Regions from separate parts of the Homo sapiens genome. Here regions 1 and 3 are each linked to region 2. The links come from fine-mapping of genetic effects on gene expression. A gene starts in region 2. Each other region holds a variant in brackets. All regions are shown on one strand. Distances are from middle to middle. Region 1 overlaps PNPT1 (polyribonucleotide nucleotidyltransferase 1). Region 2 holds the start of PPP4R3B (protein phosphatase 4 regulatory subunit 3B). Region 3 has its middle 43 kb from the start of CCDC88A.

Region 1 (2,761 bases), 29 kb after region 2:
AGATGATTAAAATTACTGAAAACTGTTAAAGAATATTCCCTAAAATTTAAAGCATTTTAACTACAAAAGTATTTAAAATATTTTCGTTTTGTGCACTGGGTAAAAACAATTTAAAAGCAGTAATATTCATTCATATATTAATGTTTATCTTACCATGATCACTAAAATTTTTTTTTTTTTTTTTTTGAGACGGAGTCTCACTTTGTCGCCCAGGCTGGAGTGCAGTGGCGCGATCTCGGCTCACTGCAAGCTCCGCCTCCCGGGTTCATGCCATTCTCCTGCCTCAGCCTCCCGAGTAGCTGGGACTACAGGCGCCCGCCACCACGCCCGGCTAATTTTTTGTATTTTTTAGTAGAGACAGGGTTTCACCGTGTTAGCCAGGATGGTCTCGATCTCCTGACCTTGTGATCCGCTCGCCTCGGCCTCCCAAAGTGCTGGGATTACAGGCGTGAGCCACCGCGCCCAGCCGATCACTAAAATTTTAATGTATTACCTACAACAGGTCCATTTTCTTTTCTAGATGCTCGAGGTTTTGAAATAGTTTTGTTCATGATCTGTAATATCTCCTTTTTTGCCACTAGAAGAGAAAAACACAAAAATTATAACTACATAAAACAAATATGATCTGAAATACTGTACTCTTAGTTTTCACGGTATACAATCTAAACCCTGTAGCTTAATAATTGAAGCTTTCCACATCCCTATTACCTTGAAAATTCACTCATATTCTCTTCTCCAAAAATCCCATCTTAAATAGAGTTGTTTAATTTGTAAAAATTGAAATTTCACTGGTAACCCACTTTGGCGTGTATTCATGTGTCCCAAAAACTTAGTTGTGCTTCTTCTTTTTTTAAAATAGATATGGGATCTCACTACGTTGCCCAGGCTGGTCTTGAACTCCTGGGGCTCAAGCAATCTTCCTGCCTTGGCCTCCCAAAGTGCTAGGATGAGCCACCATGCCATGCCTGGCTACTTAGTACTTCTTTTTTTTTGAGACATTTTCCCTCTGTCACCCAGGCTGGCGCGCAATGGCATGATCTCGGCTCACTGTAACCTCTGCCTCCTGGGCTCAAGCGATTCTCTTGTCTCAGCCTCCTGAGTAGCTGGGATTACAGGTATGCACCACCATGCCCGGCTAATTTTTGTACTTTTAGTAGAGACAGGGTTTCACCATGTTGGCCAGGCTGGTCTCGAACTCCTGACCTGAAGTGATCTGCCTGCCTCGGCCTCTCAAAGTGCTGGGATTACAGACATGAGCCACCACACCTGGCCAGTACTTCTTGATCTAAGTTATATGAAATTCCACTTTTTAAAGCAATATTTTATAATAAGCCTAATGAGAACTATAGTTCCCATTAGCAAAGTGGAAAAGAATGAAGGGAGAATCAAGCACA[C/G]TAGCTCACCTGAAGCTTGTTGAATAGCCTCCATCACAATTTTTATTGGTATTCCAGGTAATTTAATATCAGCCTAATATGGAAAAGTCAAACAATTATATAAATATTGACTCATGGCATTATTTAAATGTTACAAAAATGAAACAAAATGGGTTTTAAAAATACCTGTAATGCAGTTATTCCTTTATTAGTGCCAGCTATTTTGAAGTCCATGTCACCATTGTAATCTTCAATTCCCTTCAGGAATTTAAAAAGTTATGACATAGTTTTAAACAAAAACAAAAGTCAACATATTCACTGTAGAAACATTTCAAAAAACAGCTTTAGAAGTAAACCATATCCTAAGTCCAAACACAAAGCAATGTTTTCTACATTAACTACCACTTCCAATTTGTGACTTTTTAAGCTACAATTATTTTCACCAGAAACATCATTTTATTTTTAGATCATTCCTTTCCCTCATAAATGCCTGAGAATGAATTTATGCTCATCCTAAAGTGAGTCATTATGAATACTTACACTGTGTAAGTATTACTGCAATACTTAAGGGTAAGTATTACTATTTTTTTAAAGTAATCATTTTATTTTATTTTATTTTACTTATTTTGAGACACAGTCTTGCTCTGTTGCCCAGGATGGAGTGCAGTGGCACGATCTTGGCTCACTGCAACCTCTGCCTCCCGGGTTCAAGCAATTCTGCCTCAGCCTGCCAAGTAGATGGGATTACAGGTGTGTGCCACCATGCCCAGGCTAATTTTTGTATTTTTAGTAGAGATGGAGTTTTGCCACATTAGCCAGACTGGTCTGGAACTCCTGACTTCCCAAAGTGCTGGGATTACAGGCATGAGTCACTGTGCCTGGCCTATTACTATTAATATAATATCTATTTTAAATTCATATCCTATAAGATACAAGGTGAACATGCAGAGGAGGAAGGGAAGAACAAGTACCTGTTCTTCAAATACTAGCATTCTTCTAAGCATACGCTAGGTGCAAAGTACATATAGTCTTCACCATTATTTGTTTTTATCTTTTAATTTTTATTTATTTATTTTTAGTCTTCATTATTAAATATTTGAAACCGAGAATATACTTGCCAAAATATCTGTCAGCAAACGATAATCTTCTATTTCACCCTTCTCAGGATCGGTTTTGGTGACCAATCCTATTGCTACGCCTGCAACAGCAGATGAAATTGGAACCCCTATAATTGGGAAAAAGAACAACTGTGGGTAATGTGTACATGAGCCTAAAACAAATATTTATCTATCAATTTTTTTTTTTTTTTGAGAGGGAGTCTCGGTCTGTTGCCCAGACTGGAGTGCAGTGGCATGATCTTGGCTCACTGTAGCCTCTGCTTCCTGGGT
Region 2 (2,761 bases):
AGGAGACTAGATGACTATTAAAATTTTATTGAAATAAAAATTTTAAGGTCTAAATGACCACTTCAAGCCATTCGTTTTAACAAAAGTTGTTTTATTGCATTCCCAGTTTAACAAATAATGCAAATTACAAAACAAAAACATCATGACAGGGATTAAATACTTAGTATAGAAATTACAGTGCTGCATTTATCCTTTCCTCATTAAGAACAAAAGAACACCTTCTGTAGAAGTGATGACTATTTAAAATAAAAGGGAACAAGCAAGAATACAAAATATGTCAAGACTAAACCTAAGATTATTTTTCTAACTGCCTATATCAGTTGTTCAAATCAAGTCCAGATTATACTATAAAAGGCATTTTAATTACGGCTCTACATTTTGTAATTTAAAATACTTCACATGACTACAATAAACCAAAGAACACAGCAGTTTACAACCTGCTTTGGTGTCCCAACTTGCTTAGATTGTAAGGCATTCACTTTCTCATAGCGCCTTCTACAAAGGCAGCCCGAAGAAATGCAGACTACAGATGTATGTGCTTGTGTGTCCATGTATCGTGGCAACAGTCAGCAATACAGCCAGGAAAACGTGCCTTTCGGTTTTCCCCAGCACCTGTCGACTGTGGCACCTGGGGCCCGTTGGTACAATTTTTTTTTTTTAAAAACACTCGGAAAGAAAAGTTTCCCTAAACCGTTTGTACTAGACGTATAATGGATAAGTAAATAAAGGGGGAGGAAGGTGTCAGCTCCTAGGGCGACATCAGTACCTAGTCTCTCACTACTTCCTCCCTTCTCTCTCACACTCTCCCCTCTTCAAAAGAGGAGGGACTGGAAAGGAAGGAGTCCAATCCTTAAGAGAGATGGGAGAAGGACAGAGAGTCTCGGTCTCCGAGGATAAGTCCAGTCAAAAGTACAGTACTTTGTTTTTGCCGTACACAAGAGCCAGTTCAGAACCAACGCGCTGTCCCGAAGGAGTAGCAACGGTAACGGGCCCAGGGCCCTAAACCCAAGCTGTGCCCCAACCAGAGGCACTATCCCCTATTCTACAGTTCCGATAACCTTACCGTCGGACTCTGCCCGAACCAGCAGCGACATCCCCTTGAGCTCCTCCACGTAAGTGGAGGAGACGTGCCCGGTGCCTCGGTCGTCCCATTGCCGGTCTTCGTTCAGGGTATAGACCTTCACTCGCCGCCGCGTATCCGACATGGTGGCTGCTGTCTCCACCGCTCTAGCCGCCGCCTCCTCGCTTACCTCGTCCGCGCTCCTCACTCTTAGGAGACGGTAAAGGCAGTAGTGGCGGTGGCGGCGGCGGCGGCTTCGGAGAGGCCCGAATTCACCATGGCTCCAAAGGTTCAGCCGCGAGAAGGGGTGACAAGAGCCACTGAGGCCTCTCCGCCCGGAGGCCCCGTTACCTCTCACTTCACCCGCGCATACACCCACTCTCCCGTCTCTTTGCCCCCCAGGGCTCGCTTGCTCTCCCGCCGCCGCGGTAACTACTACAGATCCGCCATCTTGTAACCCGACTCTCTCTGCCTTTCTCTTCCTCCTCCAGCAGGCTCGCACGGGCTGTCCTAGCAGGGGCTACGGCGGCCGACAAGTCCCATGAGCAGCACCTCCGCTTCTGCACGCGCTTCCCAGGCCGGAATGCTCGGCGCTCTCGCGAGGAGGGGTACCGACTGGGGCGGGAGTACTTCGGCGAGACTTCCTCCTCTTTCGGCCCGACTTCCTCCTCTTTCGGCCCCGCCTCTTGGCGCGGGGTCGCAATTGGGCGGGAGGTTCTCGCGATCTCCCCGTCCACGCCTGCGCCGCGAGAGGCCGCTAGGTGGAAGGGGACTTCGGTTCCGCACGTCGTCATGTTGTTGGATGGCACCAGTATGTGACGTTCCTAGGAACTTAGCTCTGAGGAAAAAACAAAGCAAACCGGGGAAGTACGTAGCCTTGAACCGGAGTAACCAGGGACAGAAAGGAAGGAAAAGGGTTTCATACCTTCACGGAACGACGCTCACTTCGTCCGCCTGAGGAGGAAAAATAAGTTTAAACCTTTCTGTGAAAAAGAACGTGGAGCCCTTTCTGCCGAATGGAAACCCGCTAAACCCCGTTATGGAGTCTGCTACAATTAAGCATCTAACCAGGAATTGTCTATGGACACAACTCTCCAGGCAATTCATGCAGAAAGTGTGTTGACGATTTCCTGTTTCTTGCAGAGCGCTTCACCGTTAAGGCTCTTAGTAGCTGGCGATTGTAAAGCACATTTTCCGCTTCATGAAAATACAGTGCTCTTCTTGTGTTTGTAACCTTGGAAAGTAAGTCTGCTATGATAAGTTTAGGGAAGTGGCGGGGAGCTACTTTCCTAACATATCTGTGATTGTTTTGATACTTCTCAGTTTCTCGCGGGCATTTCCTGCGTTCTCTATAGGGCTCTCTTGCACTGAATAAGGAAAGGAGGAATTCTCTCTGCATTGAGGCTATTATCGCACATTGTGCGGTGGATATAGTCACGCGCTGGGTCGTAGTAGCGTGTCGTTTATTTCAGTCCAGCTCACTCTTGGTAGAATCCCTTTATTCGTTTTGTTGTTTTTGATAGTCTCTCTCTGCTTCCCAGGCTAGAGTGCAATGGCGCTATCTCGACTCACTGTAGCCTCCGCCTTGAGGGCTCAAGCGATCCTCTCACCTCAGCCTCCCGAGTAGCTGGGACCGTAGACGCCTGCTCCCCATCCCCGCTATATTCGTTCTTTAATACAGTCTCTCAGCTTGTTCAGCTG
Region 3 (2,761 bases), 150 kb before region 2:
GTTGCATGAGAGAGGGAGGGAAAGATAAGGAATAGATGAAGCAAGTCTAATGAACCCTTGAAAATTGTTCATCTTGATGATAAGTATGTAGGAGTGAATCATGCTATTTACTTAACTTTTGTGTATATTTGAAAATTTCTACGGTAAAATAATTTTCAACTAAACTTTTTCAGAAGTGGGGACATTATTACCAGCTTACAGAAATAGAAAGGATTATAATGATACTATGAAAAATTGTACTCCAACACATTGGATAACTTTAACTTGTAGCTTGAAAGTAGGGTAAATAGGGGTCCATTCCAAGATGGCCAAATAGGAACAGCTCTGGTCTGCAGCTCCCAGCGTGATTGACGCAGAAGATGGGTGATTTCTACATTTCCAACTGAGGTACCTGGTTCATCTCATTGGGACTGGTTGGACAGTGGGTGCAGCCCACAGAGAGCGAGTTGAAGCAGGGCAGGGCATCGCCTCACCCGGGAAGTGCCAGGGATCAGGGGATTTCCCTTTCCTAGCTAAGGAAAGCCATGACAGACTGTACCTGGAAAATCGGGACTTTGCCACCCAAATACTGTGCTTTTCCACCAGTCTTGGCAAACGGCACACCAGGAAATTATATCCCGCGCATGGCTCAGTGGGTCCCATGCCCACAGAGCCTTGCTCACTGCTAGCACAGCAGTCTGAGATCAAACTGTGAGGCGGCAGCCTGGCTCGGGGAGGGGCGTCCACCATTGCTGAGGTTTGAGTAGGGAAACAAAGTGGACAGGAAGCTTAAACTGGGTGGAGCTCACCGCAGCTCAACGAGGCCTGCCTGTCTTTGTAGACTCCACCTCTGGGGTCAAGGCATAGCTGAAAAAAAGGCAGCAGAAACTTCTGCAGACTTAAACATCCCTGTCTGACAGCTCTGAAGATGGCACTGTTTCTCTCAGCATGGTATTTGAGCTCTGAGAACGGACAGACTGCCTCCTCAAGTGGGTACCTGACCTCCGTGTAGCCTAACTGGGAGACACCTCCCAGTAGCAGCCAACTGACACCTCATACAGCCGGGTGTCCCTCTGAGACGAAGCTTCTAGAGGAAGGATCAGACAGCAATGTATTTGCTGTTCTGCAGCCTCCGCTGGTGATACCCAGGCAAAAAGGGTCTGGAGTGGACCTCCAGCAAACTCCAACAGACCTGCAGCTGAGGGACCTGACTGTTAGAAGGAAAACTAACAAACAGAA[A/G]GGAATAGCATCAACATCAACCAAAGACATCCACACCAAAACCCCATCTGTAGTCACCATCATCAAAGACCAAAGGTAGATAAAACCACAAAGATGGGGAGAAACCAGAGCAGAAAAGCTGAAAATTCTAAAAACCAGAGCGCCTCTTCTCCTCCAAAGGATCGCAATTCCTTGCCAGCAACGGAACAAAGCGGGACAGAGAATGACTTTGTTAAGTTGACAGAAGTAGGCTTCAGAAGGTCAGTAATAACAAACTTCTCCGAGCTAAAAGAGGATGTTCGAACCCATTGCAAGGAAGCTAAAAACCTGGAAAAAAGATCAGACGAATGGCTAACTAGAATAAACAGCATGGAGAAGACCTTAAATGACCTGATGGAGCTGAAAACCATGGCATAAGAACTACGTGACGCATGCACAAGCTTCAGTAGCCAATTCGATCAAGTGGAAGAAAGGGTATCAGTGATTGAAGATCAAATTAATGAAGTGAAGCAAGAAGAGAAGTTTAGAGAAAAAAGCAAAAATAAATGAACAAAGCCTCCAAGAAATATGGGACTATGTGAAAAGACCAAATCTGCGTTTGATTGGTGTACCTGAAAGTGACAGGGAGAATGGAACCAAGTTGGAAAACACTCTTCAGGATATTGTCCAGGAGAACTTCCCCAGCCTACAAGGCAGGCCAACATTCAAATTCACGAAATACAGAGAACACCACAAAGATACTCCTCGAGAACAGCAACCTCAGGACACATAATTGTCAGATTCGCCAAGGTTGAAATGAAGGAAAAAATGTCAAGGGCAGCCAGAGAGAAAGGTCGGGTTACCCACAAAGGGAAGCCCATCAGACTAACAGCGGATCTCTCGGCAGAAACTCTACAAGCCAGAAGAGAGTGGAGTCCAACGTTCAACAATCTCAAAGAAAAGAATTTTCAACTCAGAATTTCATATCCAGCCAAACTAAGCTTCATAAGTGAAGGAGAAATAAAATCCTTTACAGACAAGCAAATGCTGAGAGATTTTGTCACCACCAGGCCTGCCCTACAAGAGCTCCTGAAGGAAGCACTAAACATGGAAAGGAAAATTGGTACCAGCCTCTGCAAAAACATGCCAAATTATAAAGACCATCAATGCTAGGAAGAAACTGCATCAACGAACGAGCAAAATAACCAGCTAACGTCATAATGACAGGATCAAATTCACACATAACAATGTTAACCTTAAATGTAAATGGGCTAAATGCCCCAATTAAAAGACACAGACTGGCAAATTGGATAAAGAATCAAGACCCATCACCGTGCTGTATTCAGGAGACCCATCTCATGTGCAGAGACACACATAGACTCAAAATAAAGGGATGGAGGAAGATCTACCAAGCAAATGGAAAGCAAAAAAAAAAGCAAGGGTTGCAATCCTAGTCTCTGATGAAACAGACTTGAAACCAACAAAGATCAAAAGAGACAAAGAAGGCCATTACATAATGGTAAAGGGATCAATTCAACAAGAAGAGCTAACTTTCCTAAACATATATGCACCCAATACAGGAGCA

What was found. PIP is the estimated chance that this variant, and not a neighbour inherited with it, causes the effect.
Region 1: its variant is fine-mapped to the expression of PPP4R3B in whole blood (TOPMed, PIP above 0.99). The same link has a PIP of 0.9 or more in skeletal muscle.
Region 3: its variant is fine-mapped to the expression of PPP4R3B in whole blood (INTERVAL, PIP 0.92).

What each region holds. Positions count from the first base shown.
Region 1 is chr2:55,644,856-55,647,616 of GRCh38, forward strand. It overlaps PNPT1 (polyribonucleotide nucleotidyltransferase 1), which reads right to left. Exons shown (of 28, transcript NM_033109.5): 19 at 2,492-2,598; 20 at 1,560-1,631; 21 at 1,404-1,467; 22 at 494-577. Among named protein-coding and RNA genes, the nearest start is that of PPP4R3B-DT, 28 kb to the left of the region's middle. The variant C/G (reference allele first, on the strand shown) is at 1,395.
Region 2 is chr2:55,616,081-55,618,841 of GRCh38, forward strand. It overlaps PPP4R3B (protein phosphatase 4 regulatory subunit 3B), which reads right to left and starts at 1,542. Exons shown (of 17, transcript NM_001122964.3): 1 at 1,064-1,542. The coding sequence starts at 1,205. PPP4R3B-DT (PPP4R3B divergent transcript) reads left to right here and starts at 1,850. Exons shown (of 3, transcript NR_186624.1): 1 at 1,850-2,302. RefSeq lists enhancers at 498-1,424, 1,425-2,349, 1,443-1,842, 1,863-1,912.
Region 3 is chr2:55,461,869-55,464,629 of GRCh38, forward strand. No RefSeq gene overlaps it. Among named protein-coding and RNA genes, the nearest start is that of CCDC88A, 43 kb to the left of the region's middle. The variant A/G (reference allele first, on the strand shown) is at 1,219.